Regions from separate parts of the Homo sapiens genome. Here region 2 is linked to region 1. The links come from fine-mapping of genetic effects on gene expression. A gene starts in region 1. The other region holds a variant in brackets. All regions are shown on one strand. Distances are from middle to middle. Region 1 holds the start of DOCK8 (dedicator of cytokinesis 8). Region 2 overlaps DOCK8 (dedicator of cytokinesis 8).

What was found.
Region 2: its variant is fine-mapped to the expression of DOCK8 in whole blood (TwinsUK, PIP 0.95).

Annotation. Positions count from the first base shown.
Region 1 is chr9:211,457-219,456 of GRCh38, reverse strand. It overlaps DOCK8 (dedicator of cytokinesis 8), which reads right to left and starts at 4,592. Exons shown (of 48, transcript NM_203447.4): 1 at 4,428-4,592. The coding sequence starts at 4,480. It overlaps DOCK8-AS1 (DOCK8 antisense RNA 1), which reads left to right and starts at 3,707. Exons shown (of 1, transcript NR_160804.1): 1 at 3,707-6,000. RefSeq lists silencers at 4,118-4,257, 4,428-4,477, 4,528-4,577, 4,588-4,837.
Region 2 is chr9:272,531-280,530 of GRCh38, reverse strand. The region is part of intron 2 of DOCK8 (dedicator of cytokinesis 8); the gene reads right to left. Among named protein-coding and RNA genes, the nearest start is that of DOCK8-AS1, 61 kb to the right of the region's middle. The variant C/G (reference allele first, on the strand shown) is at 3,806.

The DNA.
Region 1 (8,000 bases):
ACTCTGTCGCCCAGGCTGGAATGCAGTGGCACATCTCAGCTCACTGTAGCCTCCACCTCCCAGGTTCAAGCAATTATCCCACCTCAGCCTCCTAAGTAGCTGGGATTACAGGTGCACACCACTACACCTGGCTAATTTTTGTATTTTTTAGTAGAGACGGGGTTTCGCCATGTTGGCCAGGCCGGTCTTGAACTCCTGACCTCAGGTGATCGTCCCGCCTTGGCCTCCCAAAATGCTGAGATTACAGGCGTGAGCCAGTGCACCCAGCTCTGTTTGTTCCTTTTCTGAAAGGACGAAATGAAGGTATATAAAGTTCTTAGCACAATATGTAGCACATAGTAAATAATTAATAAATGTTACCTATTATTATTTTAAAATAAAACTGAGATGGCAGCATGGTATAATGATTAAAAGAGAAGACTCTGGAGCCAGGCTGCCTGCATTTGAATCTCAGCTGTGACCTTAATTAGTTGTTTGTGAGTTTGGACAATTTCTATATCTTCTCTGCACTCAGTTTCTCCATCTGTAAAACGGAGATAGTCATTGCTCCTATCTCATAGAGGTGAATGAGTTACGATATGTAAATATTTAGAACTGTCTCTGCCACATAGAAAGCATTCTAGAAGTGTAAGCCATTATTTTTTCTTCCTTTCAATCCTGACTGTCCACAAGAGGGTTAATGTTTTTTTCTGCATTCTACACTTTCGTCCTCTTTATCCAAGGTTCTTATTTTACTTTAATATTTGATCAAATTTTACATCTATTCTGTATTTGAAAGACACTAAGATTTTGTTTAATAAATTTTCAGAGTACTAGTAATAATTTTTATAATCTACAAAGGCACTAAATTCCAGTAAGAAAAAAGGCAATTAACAAGACTAGATGTTCCCACAAGTACCATGTTATGACATTTAATGCAGCAGCACCTGAAATCCCAAACGCAAATGTTATTACGAACTGCCTAACTTAGATCTAGTCTTTCCTTGGCACGCAAGTCAGCAACAAAAAAATGGAAATGAAGACAAGTATATAGCACTTACAAGAAAATTAATTTCACCTTTCTTCTCAGACTGTGAGATAGTCTGCTCACTCCTTCTGGAGACTGGTGTGGTCAGAACTGAACGCTTTACAAATAATATTTTTAATATATCAGATTTGAATACTTCATTAACAGGAAGCACACTGGTTTTATCCCACAAATATTTTTAAGAGATAGTTTACACTATTCTGAGTAGTAAGGTGAAAAACATGAGCACATGCTGAATGTACTAATGGCCATATTTCAACACAGTCTTACTTTTGGAATTTGACCTATTTAAAAAAAATAATAGGTAGGCACGTAAGGGAAAACATTTCTTTTCCACCTTCAACATTGCAAAACATCACATTGTTAATGTTTATATATTAAACACTAATCAGAAACAGAACACTTTGCCAATGCTGCTACCAAAATGATGATTTTTTAAAAATTAATTCCCCTCTTGCTTTAAAGGAAATTCTTGGGATACATATGCATCAAAATAACAATCGGCCCAATTAAGAGCACAGTCTTTGGAGCAGTTTGCAATCCCAGCTCTGCCATTGCTGGTTGTATGGTCTTGAAAAAATTACATGGCCTTGTGCAGCTGTATCTCCAAGATTCCTTTTCCTCTTCTGTACAAGACTTCATGAGTTTGATAGGCTTTTTGTGAGAATTTAATCATAAAATCCATTAACTGTATAATATAGTGTCTGGGACACAATAAGTAAACAATAAATGGTGAAATTAAATGATATATGAATACTAGGTATGTCCTTATTAATCTGCTCCTTTGAATAATAATTTCTGCCAAGCTCCTTAGCATAACTCTCCCACACAACACACAGAGTGCTTCAAAAAGGAAAACAGAACTCTAAGAATACGAATTTCCAATCCATTTTCTTGCCTGAGGATTATAGAACCTTTTATACTTTATTAAACTTGAGGGGGCTCTTCTTGATCAGATTTCATCACATATTTTCTTCCATTGAATGTGTTTTGGGTTCTCAGCACCAGATGGAAGGCACAGGCGGAGAAACACTGGCCCCAAGAAAGCTCCCAGCCAGCCACTGGCATCTCCATACCTAACCCAAACTGATCTCTGCCTGAAGCTCTCCAACTTCAGCTTTCCTTCCTACCTTTCTATCTTAGGCTCTCAAAGATGGTGATGATGGAGATAATGACAGCAGTGAAGCTGATTGTAATGTTAATGATGGCAACTAAGAATTATTCACCATTTATTCTGAGCCAGACACTACAAGCAACATGCAATCAACATGAAAATCATTAACAAGACATTTTGCATTATTTTTTCTGTACTGTCTCTAAATTCCAATGTGTATGTTACACATCCAGCACTTGGCAATTCGGACTTTGTACCTATTATTCATTTAATCCTCCCCACAGTCATAAGAAGTAGGTACTATGATCAACTCTACTTGGCACATAAAGAAACCAAAGCTTAGAGAAGTTAAGTAACATGTCCAATGTTGCACAGTGACTTTGTAGCAGAGAGCCAATTTGCAAGCAGATCAGACACTAACCAGGGCCTTTATTCTTAACCCCCAGGTGACACCGACCCCGCAGTTGCTTGCAAGACTGCCTGTAGGATTAGTCCGGGTCTCGGCCACTCACCCCAGATCAACCCTGCCCAACCCCATAGTTTCTAACATCTTTCTGCCCCAGTCACACTTCCTGATCTAAAATTCACAAAGACAGAGGATCAGGAGCTATAGCAAATAATACACCCATCAGTAACTTCAGTTTGATTCCCTATACTCCTTGAATGAATTACCCCTCCTGGCATGCAACAGCTATGAACCTTAATGTAGAAAAAAATTCCCATAGGGAGATCCCTGATATACTTCATGCCTTGTTTTTGCTTTTTTTTTTTTTTTTTTGTCTGTTTTTTGAGACAAGGTTTCACTCTCTCACCCAGGCTGGAATGCAGTGGCATGATCACAGCTGTGATCCTCCTGGGCTCAAGCGATGCTCTTGTCTCAGCCTCTTGAATAGCTGGGGCTACAGGTGCATGCAACCACACCTGGCTAATGTTTTAAAATTATTTTTTTGTAGCCACAGGGGTCCCACTATGTTGCCCAGGCTGGTCTCAAACTCTGGGCTCAAGTAATCCTCCCATCTGGGCCTCCCAAATTGCTGGGATTAGAGGTGTGAGCCATGGCACCCAGCCTCTTTATGCCTTTTGACTAGTACCTTTTGGCCTCCAACATTAATATGCAATATACATAAATAATTAAACTCATTTTACAGATGACGAAATAGTAAGGTAAGAGAAACAGTTTGCTGGCAGTCACGTATCAAGTGGAAATAAAATCGTCAATAAAGCTCGATATGCCCTCTAGAAGACCTTATCGCCTTGTTTTTCTAGGCTTTTAATTCCTTGTTCAAACCTCTTCACACACTAACAGCACAAAGATGAACCTACGGTGGAATCCACCTTTCACAGGCTCAGCTAAGTGAAGATTAACAAATCGGACAGCCCTGTGGGCAATAGAATAAGTTGACACTTTAGAATGAGTTTCCTATTATCTTTTAACTAGACAGTCTAGCTTTCTCAGGGCAAGACAAAAATGTCCCAATTACTTGTCAGCAGTTTTTAGTGGAGGAAAAACTGCAGTTAAAGCACCTTTACTGAGAACTTTGAGCAGTAAATGTGCTTACATATTTAGTTTGTGCAACTTTGATTAGGAATTGGATGGTGAGTTGGGATCCCCCAGTCCTTAGCTTTTTGCTGGAGTTCTGTAAATCTCAAAATGTCAGCCACAGGCCATTTCTTTTGGTTTATTTAAGTGTAGATTTTTTAAAAAATCACTTTTTCCACTTCATGGCTCCTTTGGACCAGGGTATAAAAATAGCGATGCCACCAGGAGCCAAGCTCTTTCTGGAATAATGAAGCAGGCGAGGACGGAGCCTTGCTCAGGACGACAGAAGGCTTGCAGCCTGCCTCAAACGCAACTCTAATTTCAGCCACTTCACTTCTTCCCCCCGCGCTCAGACTTGCCTCAAAGGAAGGAGCCGTTTATGAGACACTCCGTGGCGCGCCCAACACGGTTACCCAGGCGCCTATCACCCTTCTGGGACCCGGCCACCTGTAAGAACCTGGAGGGCGGAGCGGGCGAGGTTGTTCGGGGAAGGGATCCCCGGCGGCTGAGGACATCCAGGAGCACCGAGATTCTTGGGGAGGACCTCGCCGGGCCCAGCGCAGGAGCCGCCGCGCGTCCAGCGGCTCCACCGCCGCAGCCTCGGGAACCGGGCGCCCCAGGTCTCAGGCGCGCCCCGCCGCGGACGCGAATGGACTCGTCCGGCCTCGGCCCCTGCAGCGAAGCTCCGCTTCACACCAGCGCTGGGCTGTCCGGCCGCAACCTGCGCGCCGCGGGGGGCGTCTTACCTGTTGATCTTGAGCGCGAACGCGCGGCGCTCTGCGCTCGGCAGAGTGGCCATGGCCCGCCGGCGGTTCGGTGGCTTCTAGGGTCGCGGGGTGCGGAAAGCGGGGGCCTGGCGCGCCGCAGAGTAGCCGCGGAACATGCCCAGCCAAGCGCAAACCTCGTCTGTCGGTCGGCGCTGGAAACTTCCGCATTTCCACCTTCTAAGCCGAAATCACCCCGGGGGAGGGTCCGAGCTCGGAGCAGCGACGGCCGGCTCCGCCACCCGGCCTGGCGCGCAGGCAGCGGCGGGCGAGGAGGGCGTGGGCCCAGCGCGGAACTGGCCTCCCGATACTGGGGCAGACGGCGCGCTCTGCCCGGGGCCGCCGACCTCCGGCCGAAGGGAGCGCGGGCGGACGACAGGCGACCACTGCGCGCAGGCCGGAAGCTCCATCTGCCCGAAGCTGCGAGGCTGCCAGGGAATGTAGGCAAGTCGGGGGAGCCCCACAAAGCTGGCGAGGTCGGGAATCACCCCAGGGATTCGTAAGGCTAGGTGTTATTAAGGGTTGACACCATTCTCGAAGAAGGCAGCCAAAAAAAAAGACAAAAAAGTTAGTGGAATCTATCAGGATTCAAATCAACTTTTGCAAGCAATATGCCCATCATCCTTCCTGAGACACTAAATAAATATAATGGATTCATCCAAGGAATAAACATTATGAGTTCTCAAAAAATGTTTTCGTCACAACCTGGCGTGAATGCTTTTCTCCGGAGAAACACTGAAGGCGGCGTTCTTGCGATTCAAGGGTACGCTGCGTCCAGGTTTATTTCAGTTTCAGACTGAGGTCTGCTAAGAAGCCCGGCCTCAAACTCAAGATAAAAACAGAAAAGTCCCAGTGTTGACGGGAGTGGAGGAGCCCGTGTTCGCTTCAAGGTGCCGGCGTGCTGCTCTAACCTGTGCTATATATACTCGAGCACTCTCCATATAATGCCTCCATTTACCAACTTGCTCTTAAAAAATACCAAAGCAGGCCGGGCGCGGTGGCTCACGCCTGTGATCCCAGCACTTTGGGAGGCCGAGGCGGGCGCATCACGAGGTCAGGAGATCGAGACCATCCTGGCCAACGTGGTGAAACCCCGTCTCTACTAAAATACAAAAAATTAGCCGGGCGTGGTGGCGCACGCCTTAGTCCCAGCTACTTGGGAGGCTGAGGCAGGGGAATCACTTGAACCCGGGAGGCGGAGCTTGCAGTGAACCGAGATCTGCCACTGCACTCCAGCCTGGCGACAGAGCAAGTCTCCGTCTAAAAGAAAAAAAAAAAAACAACCAAAGCGAAGTATTTTTGGTTCAAACCTGCACTATTTAATATGATAGCCACTAGCCACATGTGGCTATTGACCACTCGGCATTATGGTTAGTCTGAATTGCCCACTGCTGGATGTGTAAAATGTACACTGGAATTTAAAGACAGCGCAGAAAACATCGTGTAAAATGTCTTGTTAATGATTTTCATGTTGATTGCATGTTAAATGATACTTTGGATATAAAAAATATATTATTAAAGTTAATTTCACCTGTTTGTTTTCCCCTTTTAAAAATGTGGTTTGCATTTTTAAAAATGTAAAATTACACATGTGGCTCACATTTGTGAGCCTCATTATATTCCTATTGGACAGTGCCAGTCCAATACAACCTAATTTGTCACCTAATACTAAAATCCACCTAAGGACTATATTCAGTCTCTTCCTGATACAGCCTTCCTTCCTGGTTTCAGCTGTGTCAGGTAGTTTAGTAACTTTTCAGTACTGGTTAGGTAACTCCCCGCCCCCCAATGCCCACCAAATATCAGTGCCCTTTTAAGCATATAAGACAAAGTTCACTGCATAGACTACAATAGACTACATACGAAAACAAACCCAAAGAAAAATAAAGCTTTTTTGAAATTTAGAGTTTCTGACTTTCAAAACTGTCCTTATTTACTACATTGGAATTTATGAGCAAACATTTGGATAGCAAAATACAAAGAGAACAAATGTGTAAGTACTTCTTCAAACTGAGACTCAACGAATGATACATAGAAAACATTTTGCCCCAGAGGCTTCGGTCCACGGTGTACCATGTCAGCCTTTCGGATGAACTCCTCTGAATTTCTGAATGTTTATGACATACATTTTCATATAGAACAAAAATATACTGGTTTCACACAAACATAAATAAAATGTAATGAAAGCATCTCAGATTTTCAGCATTTGCAATCAAGGAAACTTTTTGGGTGAATGTGGGAATCATAAAACCTTCCATCTTGCCTCAGATCATACTGCAATAGATTTAGTATTTGGTACCTAACCATGAAGGTTAGGCCAGCATTATTATCCTCTGTGCTGTCAATTTCTTGATGGTTAGAATTGTCTCCAGATTTCCTTAACACTCTTTTAACAATTCACCATGAATGTGTTATCCATTAATTTAGTCAAATGCCTGTTTTCAAGTTTGATCTGCTGTTAGATACATTCACATATTGCTGGCAAATAGCCATCCAAGTGCCTTTCTTCCTTATTCTCACTGCCTCTTTCGTTTTCCATCAGCCCTCTGTCCAGAGAGAACTCTGGGAGGCCTCCTTCTTTCCGCATCTGATGGTCTCTCTTGGCCTTCCTCTTTCTCCGTATCTTTGTGTCATTCAATTTTGTTTTTCACCTTTATACAACTCTTCCCTTGACTTCTATCTCAGACCATACATCAATTATCCTAAATGCTCTAGTTTTCCCCACATCTTCTTCTTACCTCCCCAGAAAGCCGACCTCTTTCTCTACATTGCATCTTACCTATTTTATTGAACAAACAACTAAATAACACTTATCTTGTACCGGGTACTGCTCCAAGTCCTTTATAAAAATTAATTCATAGCAACCATTAAATAATAACATTAACCCCCCCACACATACCTCTTTGCAACTGGAGAAACTGAGGCTTAGAGAAGTTAAGTGACTTGACCAAGATTACAAACTAGTAAGGGCAGAGCCATTTCCTATCCTAAAGTTTTGCCTATTTCCCAGATTTCTGTACTCTAACATCTTCAAACTCCAGTATAAAACTAAAATTCTCCATCTACCCTACTTAACTGGAAGCTAGCTATCTCTCCATAATCACACATTTTTTGGGGGGTCGGTGGTGGCACACTACTTCCTCATTTTCCAGGTTTAAAACTTTGGAGTCATCCAGTGGAGGGAAAAGCAGGAAATCTGGGTTCTGGCTTCAGCTTTTTGCTAATTGTGTAATCCCGAGTAAGTCACACGGTCTTTGGATCACAGAGGCCTGTATCTTGGAATGACTCCATCTGCTTGCCTCTCTCTGAACTTTAGAAATACGTCAGCTCTAACTTTTTTTCCTCCTGTGTCCTTCAGATCTAATCACCTACCAAGGTCTGCCATTTATTTCTTATAAATATCACTTCTTTGTAAATATCACTGTTCTCACAGTGGCTTTCATTCCGGTCCAGCCCTTATAAATTAATACCTAGATAACAAAAATAAGATTTTAAATGGCTTCACTGCCTGTAGCCTCTTCTTTCTCCTATCTCATCTGTTTCTATCACTAGATG
Region 2 (8,000 bases), 61 kb before region 1:
TCTGTTGGGAATATTTCCTTCCTGACTATCTGCCCTGCGGACTTTTAAGCTCGCTTAGCCACACACCAGCAGTAGGCAAGCCAATACCTTCACACACATCCATATGGATTTCCTACAGCTTCTGTTTCTCTGAGTGAACCTGACTGATACGCCTCCTTTCATTCATTCAACAAACACTACACTGGGGTCCTACAGACACTAGGCTAAAGAAACCGTCACTTCCCTCAAGCAATTTTCAATACTTCTCTAGTGAAGGCTTATGCAGTCTTTCTTTTTAGTTGTTTTTTTCAGACTTCTGGTCAGTAGACTAGAAACACACAAAAAATAATTAGAAATATCACCAAAGCTTAAATTATCCACAACCAAATATTCATTTTTAAAATTAAGCAAGTTTGAGATTTCCCTTGCCCCTAACACATGTCAAAGGCTATTTCTCCTGACAAAGGGTAAGATTCAATTTGTTCTCAAATTGAAAATTCCTACAACCCCAGAACCATATCTGTTGAAAATTAATCTACATAGCTCCTAACACAGTGTAGTATACAGATAGCTGACTCAAACCACAAATCTAAACAATATTTCACAAATAGGATAGTGAAAACAGAGAGGTTAAATGACTTGCCCCAAGTCACATGTGCAGTCACACAGGACCTGGCTGCCTCGTTACAGCACTGGGGAGGCTTCACGCCACTCCTGGTGGGGACGGGGAAGAGGCATGATGTCTCCAGCTGGCGCACCTGTATCCTCATGCATGTTTCTTTACCTTTTGGAGAGTGGTCCTCACATTTACTTGGCTGTTCACAACAGACAAGCCTTGTCAAAGTCACCTAAGACTTCATGATGCCAAATTCAATGGTTTTTGCTCAGTCCTGGTTTATTGGACACAGTTGTTCACTCTCTCCCTCTTGACATACTTTCTTCCCATGGAAGGCAACCAATTGTCTCAGGGTGTCCCAGTCTCTTAAAGTCTCATGTACTGAGAAAATCCTCAGTACCAGGCAAATTGTGACAGTTCGTTCCTCTATTTTACAGATACCACTTTTACTAGGTTTTCCTCCTGCTATGCAGTGCCCTGGAGTTCAATTCTAAATCTCTTCTCAATCTGCATTCAATCTCAAATGAACTCATTCACTCCCATGGCTTTAAATATACATTTTTAAAATTACAAGTTTATATCTGCAGCCTCAACTTCTGCCATAAATTCCAGGTTGACTTTTCCAATTACACCTCAACATCACTACTTGATAATTTAACAGACCTCTCAAACACAATGAGTTCAAAACTAACTCAACTTTCCTGGCAATCTGCTCTTCCCATACCTTCCATACCTCCACACTTCTGCAAGTGGCAATTCCAGTCCACCAATTGCCCAGGTGGAAAACATTAAAGTCAATCTTGCTTCTTCTCTTTCTCCTACACTCTACATATCACCCATCAGAAAATCCTATCCACTTTCTTCTGAAATATATCCAGAATACTTCTCACTTTCTCTTCTGCCACCACCCTCGTCCAAAGCACCGGTATTGCTTTCCTGAGTTACCGTGACATCTTCCTAACTGCCCTCCCTCGTCCAGTCTATTTTCCACACTGCAGCCAGAGTGATCCTCATAAAAAGTCAAATGGTTCCACGCCCAACCTCAATGCTCACAGCAGCTTCCTGTCTTAGAGTAGGAGCCAATGTTCTACAGTCTCTGAGGCCTGTGACCCAGCCCTGCTTTCTCTATGACTGCATTTCCTACTGCCCACTCTGTTCAGGCCTCATTCTGCTTCCTTGCTGCTTCTGGAGCACGTCACTTATTGAAGTTTTGGGGACTTTGCACGTACTGTTCCTTCTGACTGGAATATTTTTCCTTCAGATGTCCGTCAAGTTCATTCAGAATTCTGCCCAAGTGTCTCCTTTCTAGATAGAGGCCTTCACGGATGATCCAATCTAAAAGCATCTCTTCTGGGTCACGATTTCATTCTTCAAAGCCCTCAATACTCCCTGACACAATCGACATTTTCTATTTGTCTGCGTCTGTCCCTCATTCTGAAAGGCAAACTCTATGAGGATAGGCCCTCTATTGTATTCACTGTTGTATCTTCAATCTCACTGCTGTGCCAGCAGTTCCTGACATAGAGACCCAATACATATTTCTAAAACGAATGAGTAAGCTCTCTACTATCTTTAAACGAAGCTGAAGGCAGTAAAGTTCTTCTAGCTTCTGTGATATCGAAGTTCTGTACTTTATGGACTAAACACTCTCCTGCTTCCAACAACAACAATCTAGCACTGATGCCACTAAGAGGGAGATGCTGACATGCCACCATGGGCATCACTCTAGTTTCACCAAGGCTGAGTTGATTCCTCTGCTGAACAATGACAATAAAGAAACGTCTGCTCTGTGTGCAGAATGCCTGCCACTCTTTCCTTTTATCTTCCATTGTGAATTTGCAAGAAAATTATCTTGAGATCTTCATTTTCCGTCATGTCCCTTCCAGTGCAATCAGTGAAACCTAAGAATAGCCCAACCCCTTGAAAGATGAAGTGCAAAAGAACAACAGAATCAGAAGAATAAAAGAGGACCATATTTATCAGGCAATTAACCATTTAAGTCATCATGAGCTGTAAAATAAAAAAGGCTGCTTTATTGCACAGAAGCCTATACACATAACAAAAATAAATGCCTTCTAAGCTATGAGACTTTTTTTTTAAATAAATGTTACATATACAAACATGCCATGTAACCATGGTGTTTGGTACATATCCAGGATGTGGCTTTTTACATCCTTTTCTTCAGTCAGAGCCGTTATGGTCCAGCTAATTCATTCCATTTCACTTCAAAATTGTTCTATTCTCACTTTTAAAAATAGGATTTTTCCCTCCATAAAATATGTAGCTTAAGGTTATTAACCACCTACACAGTCTCAAATCCTCCTTACTTCCTTAGGGCATAGATCCTAACTCTTTCTTCTCTTGTCCTCTCGCCTCCCCTCCCCTCCTTTCCTCTGAGACAGGGTCTCCTAACTCTTCTCTTGTATGTTACTCTTCTTTTGTATGTCTTCTCTTCTCTTCTCTTCTCTTCTCTTCTCTCTTTCTCTTCTCCTCTCTTCTCTTTTCTTTTCTGAGACAGGGTCTCACTCTGTTGCCCAGGCTAGAGTACTGTGGCTCAATCATGGCTCACTGCAGCCTCCAACTCCTGAGTTCAAGTGATCCTTCTGCCTCAGCCTCGCAAGTAGCTGGGACTAAAGGCATGTGCCACCATGCCTGGCTAATTTTTCTTTTTAACTTTGTTGTAGAGATGAGTTCTCACTATGTTGCCTAGGCTGGCCTCGAACTCTTGGCTTCAAGCTATCCTCCTGCCTCTGCCTCCCAAATTGTTGGGATTACATACAGCCATGAGCCATTGTGCCTGGCTTCTACTTTGAACAATCAGAAAATAGGCCGGGTGTAATGACTCATACCTGTAATCCCAGCACTTTGGGAGGCCAAGGCAGGCAGATCACTGAAGCTCAGGAGTTCAAGACCAGCCTGGACAACATGGAGAAACTCCGTCTCTACAAAAAAAATACAAAAATTAGCCAGGCGCAATGGTGCGCCTGTGGTCCCAGTTACTTGGGAGGCTGAGGCAGGAGAATCGCTTGAGCCTGGGAGGCGGAGGTTGTAGTGAGCCAAGATTGTACCACTGCACTCCAGCCTGGGCGACAGAGCAAGGCCCTGTCTCTAAATAAATAAATAAATAAATGAAAAGACAATAGTATATTACAGTTTCATTTTAACAGAGGTACTGATTATAGACTTGTTTGCCTGAATAGGTGGCTGGCA[C/G]CAGAGGGTCTCTGGTTAATCTATTCACACAGCTGTGGCAATAGAGAATGCCAAAGCCAATAAGTGAGTCTACACACAGGGTTATTTACTAGCCACAGCTGCCTTCTAGCCCTGGTCACAAAGGATTTTGGTAGGAGTGTCAAATAGACCTGGGACAAGTTTATCATCACATCTAGAAAACCAACTTCAAATGATGGATCCCCTTCATACTAAAAAATGCAAAATTTGAAAATATTTTATCTACTTAGAAAATGTTTATACACATAGTCATCAGACCTGATATTTATAGTTTTTAAAAACCCCAATAAAACAAAAAGAAAAATCAACATCAAACATACACCCTTCCTCTCATCTGATTTATCAGATTTATGACAGAAACCACTGTATTTTCTAAGGATATATCTGTAGGGTTAGTAAGTGGTCTTTGCTTACTACACCTTCTGAAATTCAAAGCACACAGGGCAAAATAAGTGTTACCTTTCTTTATATATTCCCCCCATTTGGAATACGTCTACCTTTAAAGTTTTTTTAAATGGGCCGAGCGCAGTGGCTCAAGCCTGTAATCCCAGCACTTTGGGAGGCCGAGGCGGGCGGATCACCTGAGGTCAGAAGTTCAAGACCAGCCTGGCCAACATGGCGAAACCCCGTCTTTACTAAAAATACAAAAATTAGCCAGACATGGCGGCAGCTGCCTGTAATCCCAGCTACTCAGGATGCTAAGTCAGGAGAATCACTTGAACGCAGGAGGCAGAGGTTGCAGAGAGCAGAAATCACATCACTGCACTCCAGCCTGGGTGACAGAGGGAAATTCCATTACAAAAAAAAAAAGTAAAACTAGGCCGGGCCCAGTGGCTCATGCCTGTAATCCCAGCACTTTGGGAGGCCGAGGTGGGTGGATCACTTGAGGTCAGGAGTTTGTGACCAGCCTGGCCAACATGGTGAAACCCTGTCTCTACTAAAAGTACAAAAATTAGCCAGTTGTGGTGGTGCACGCCTGTATTCCTAGCTACTGGGGAGGCTGAGGCAGGAGAATAGCTTGGACCTGGGAGGCAGGAGTTGCAGTGAGCCAAGATTGCGCCACTGCACTCCAGCCTGGGTGACAGAGCGAGACTCCATCTCAAAAAATACATTAAAATTTTAAATAAATAAATAACAGAGCTGTTTAAATGATTCTCAACCTGGGCTTCAAGTTAAAGTCCCCAGGGAACTTTAAAATACTGATGCTTGGTCCCCACCCCCAGGAATTCTGATTGAATTGTCCCTAGATAATTTTAATGTCCAGTCAGGGCTGAGAACCCTTACTCTAAGTCTTCTCAGCCTTCTCAATCAAGCCTTTGCCTCCTATCACATCATGTATCCTTTTCTCTTCTAAACACCTGCCACTTTTGAAGCCAGTATATTCTACATTACCTGTTCTCCCAAATGGATCATAAAGCCCTTCAGAGCTGAAGTCACCTTTTATTCATCATCTTCTTTTAATCTCCCACAGTGTCTCCATAGTGCCAAATCGTAAGAGAGCAATACTAGCCAATATATACAAAGGACCCATTATATAATTCTATATTCCCTACTAGGGACAGCATTATTATGCCAATTTTACAAATGAAGAAACTGAAGTCTTCAGAGAGATTAAGTGGCTTGTCACAAATTACATGACTAATAAATGACAACTGTACCTCATCCCAGATTCACCTGACTCCAAGCTCTTCACTCTTGCAAAACAGCAGCAACAACAAAGACGTGTAAATGATTAGGTTCTAAATAACTTGACTTCAATTAAATGCTTTTTAAAATTAAACAATCATTTGTATCAGCAAGTGGGCCATTGAAATGGTGGTTGTAAAAATAAAGGTAAGAGAAACGAAGGTCAGAACGCACTTGGTCTTATTTTTCAATTAGCCAAAATAATGCAACGAAAACCTACGGCTTCTCATTTTAAGGAAAGTTTTCTAAAACAGCTTTAGGTTGAGAGTCTTTAGATGATAAACTACTCCTTTGCCTTCCTAGAAATGAATCTTACCGACATGTTCCATTATCTTTCCATGAAAAGAAATTTTTTTTTAAAGGTAAAAGGAAATCACCACATAAGTTGATGATTTCTTTTGGGGAACCTTCATTCGGGACGATGACTCAAGGGGAAGAACAGCCACTTCATTCTGACATTACAACACGATACCAGGTAAACATTATGGAGATGGATTTCCTAAGCAGACTATTCATCTAAAAAAAAAAAAAGAAAAGAAAGAAAAGAAAAAAAAAAGAATTCAATCCTCTGGGCTTCCACATGCCTCCGTTCTCCAGGTAGAAGGAACAAGAGCCATATACTGAAGTTGAAGTCAAGAGATGGGAAAAGAGATTCAGAAAAGTAAAGCGGAATAACTGGGAGTAATATATTCTAAAGGATATTCACATGCAAATAGAACCAAGACTAAATGATGACAGGTAGGAACATGTGATTCTTGCATAATTTAACAATTTTACTTATTGTTGCTGGTTTCTTGATATCTTAGAAAATGGACAGCTAAGCCACATGTTAACGTCACTACCCGGCTAAGGTAGTAATTCATCAAAATTCACTTTCATCAAAACTTACTGAGGAGGCAGCAAACTTACCAAACGAATGCTTACAGATATTAAGCATTATTTTCCTTTGTAACTTTACATAAAATAATTTCTCCTGAAAGAAAATTTAAGGCTGTGGCATTAAAGTAAAAGCTGGTGGCCGGGCATGGTGGCTCATGCTCGTAATCCCAGCACTTTGGGAGGCCTAGGCGGGCGGATCACCTGAGGTCAGGAGTTAGAGACCAGCCCTACCAACATGGAGAAACCCCGTCTCTACTCAAAATACAAAATTAGCCAGATGTGATGGTGCATGCCTGTAATCCCAGCTACTCGGGAGGCTGAGGCAGGAGAATTGCTTGAACTACAGGAGAATTGCTTGAACTAGGAGGCAGAGGTTGCGATGAGCCGAGATGGTGCCATTGCACTCCAGCCTGCGTGACAAGAGCTAAACTCCATCTCAAAAAAAAAAAAAAAAGAGTAAAAGCTGGTATGGAGAGAAAGGGTTAAAGCCTGTTAGCTAAACTTCCTTAACGTCTCTTAGGAGTGATGTCCACACTACTTCCCAAGACAACTACTGCAGAAAGCTGCAGCCTTCATTTACTTTTTAAAAAAGCAAAGCACTAAACCCTCTACCTTGTTTAAAATTTAAAAGTGTATCCAATCTATTTTAAACTAAATTTTGCATGTTTTGGAATACAACTTCAGTCAATTTAAAAAAATTTTTTTGATTTTTCAATTAAATATATATTAGCACAAATTAAACCAATAAGCATATCTAATTTATCTTGGTGTAAAGCTTATCTAATATACCTGAAAATGGACACAATATGCACTTGACATGCCTTTATTATACTCTGCAATTCTGAAACACAGGAAAAGTACAAATAAAAAGGCCAGTCTAGCAAGCCACTGAAGTCATAAGTAGATTTTCTGAAAAAATGGCATGGAAAGTTACCTCCTGCAGTAAAAGATGCTATAGGTTTTTCGTACTACTATTTCATTAATGACGCAACACACAAATTATCCTTCTGAAATAACCAGAAATCACTCCAGTAAAACATACCTTTGAAAGATTCACAGTTACACGGCGCGTAAATTGTTACAGGAGACAAAATGGCGGTTACCGGAAACTGAGCGGAAGGTTACAAAATTTCTAAGGCAGAAGTGGTTTCGAAGTAATAAGTAGAAACAAAAAGTAACCTAACCTCTTCAAGATAAGCAGCAGAACCAGCAAGAGTGCTGCTGTGCTGTGTGAGGAAGTGAGTACAGGAGGGCTGGAGCTCTCTCACAGAGGAAGTGAATATTCACTGCTGGTTTTACAAACCATCTCATTTGTCAGATTTATCTCACTTGGCACACATCTGGCATTTAGTGCTCAAATAATATAACACATATAGGCACACTCAACAATTGGCATTGATATAAAAATGTAGGCAATCTTCAATTTAAGAGGAAATGTGTTTTAAAAATGAAGGTTTAGGGCCAGGTGCAGTGGCTCACTGTAATCCCAGCACTTTGGGAGGCTGAGGCAGGAGGATCGCTTGAGCCCAGGAGTTCAAGACCAGCCTGGGCAACATAGCGAGACCCCTGTCTCTACAAAAAGTACAAAAATTAGCCAGGTGTGGTGGCATGC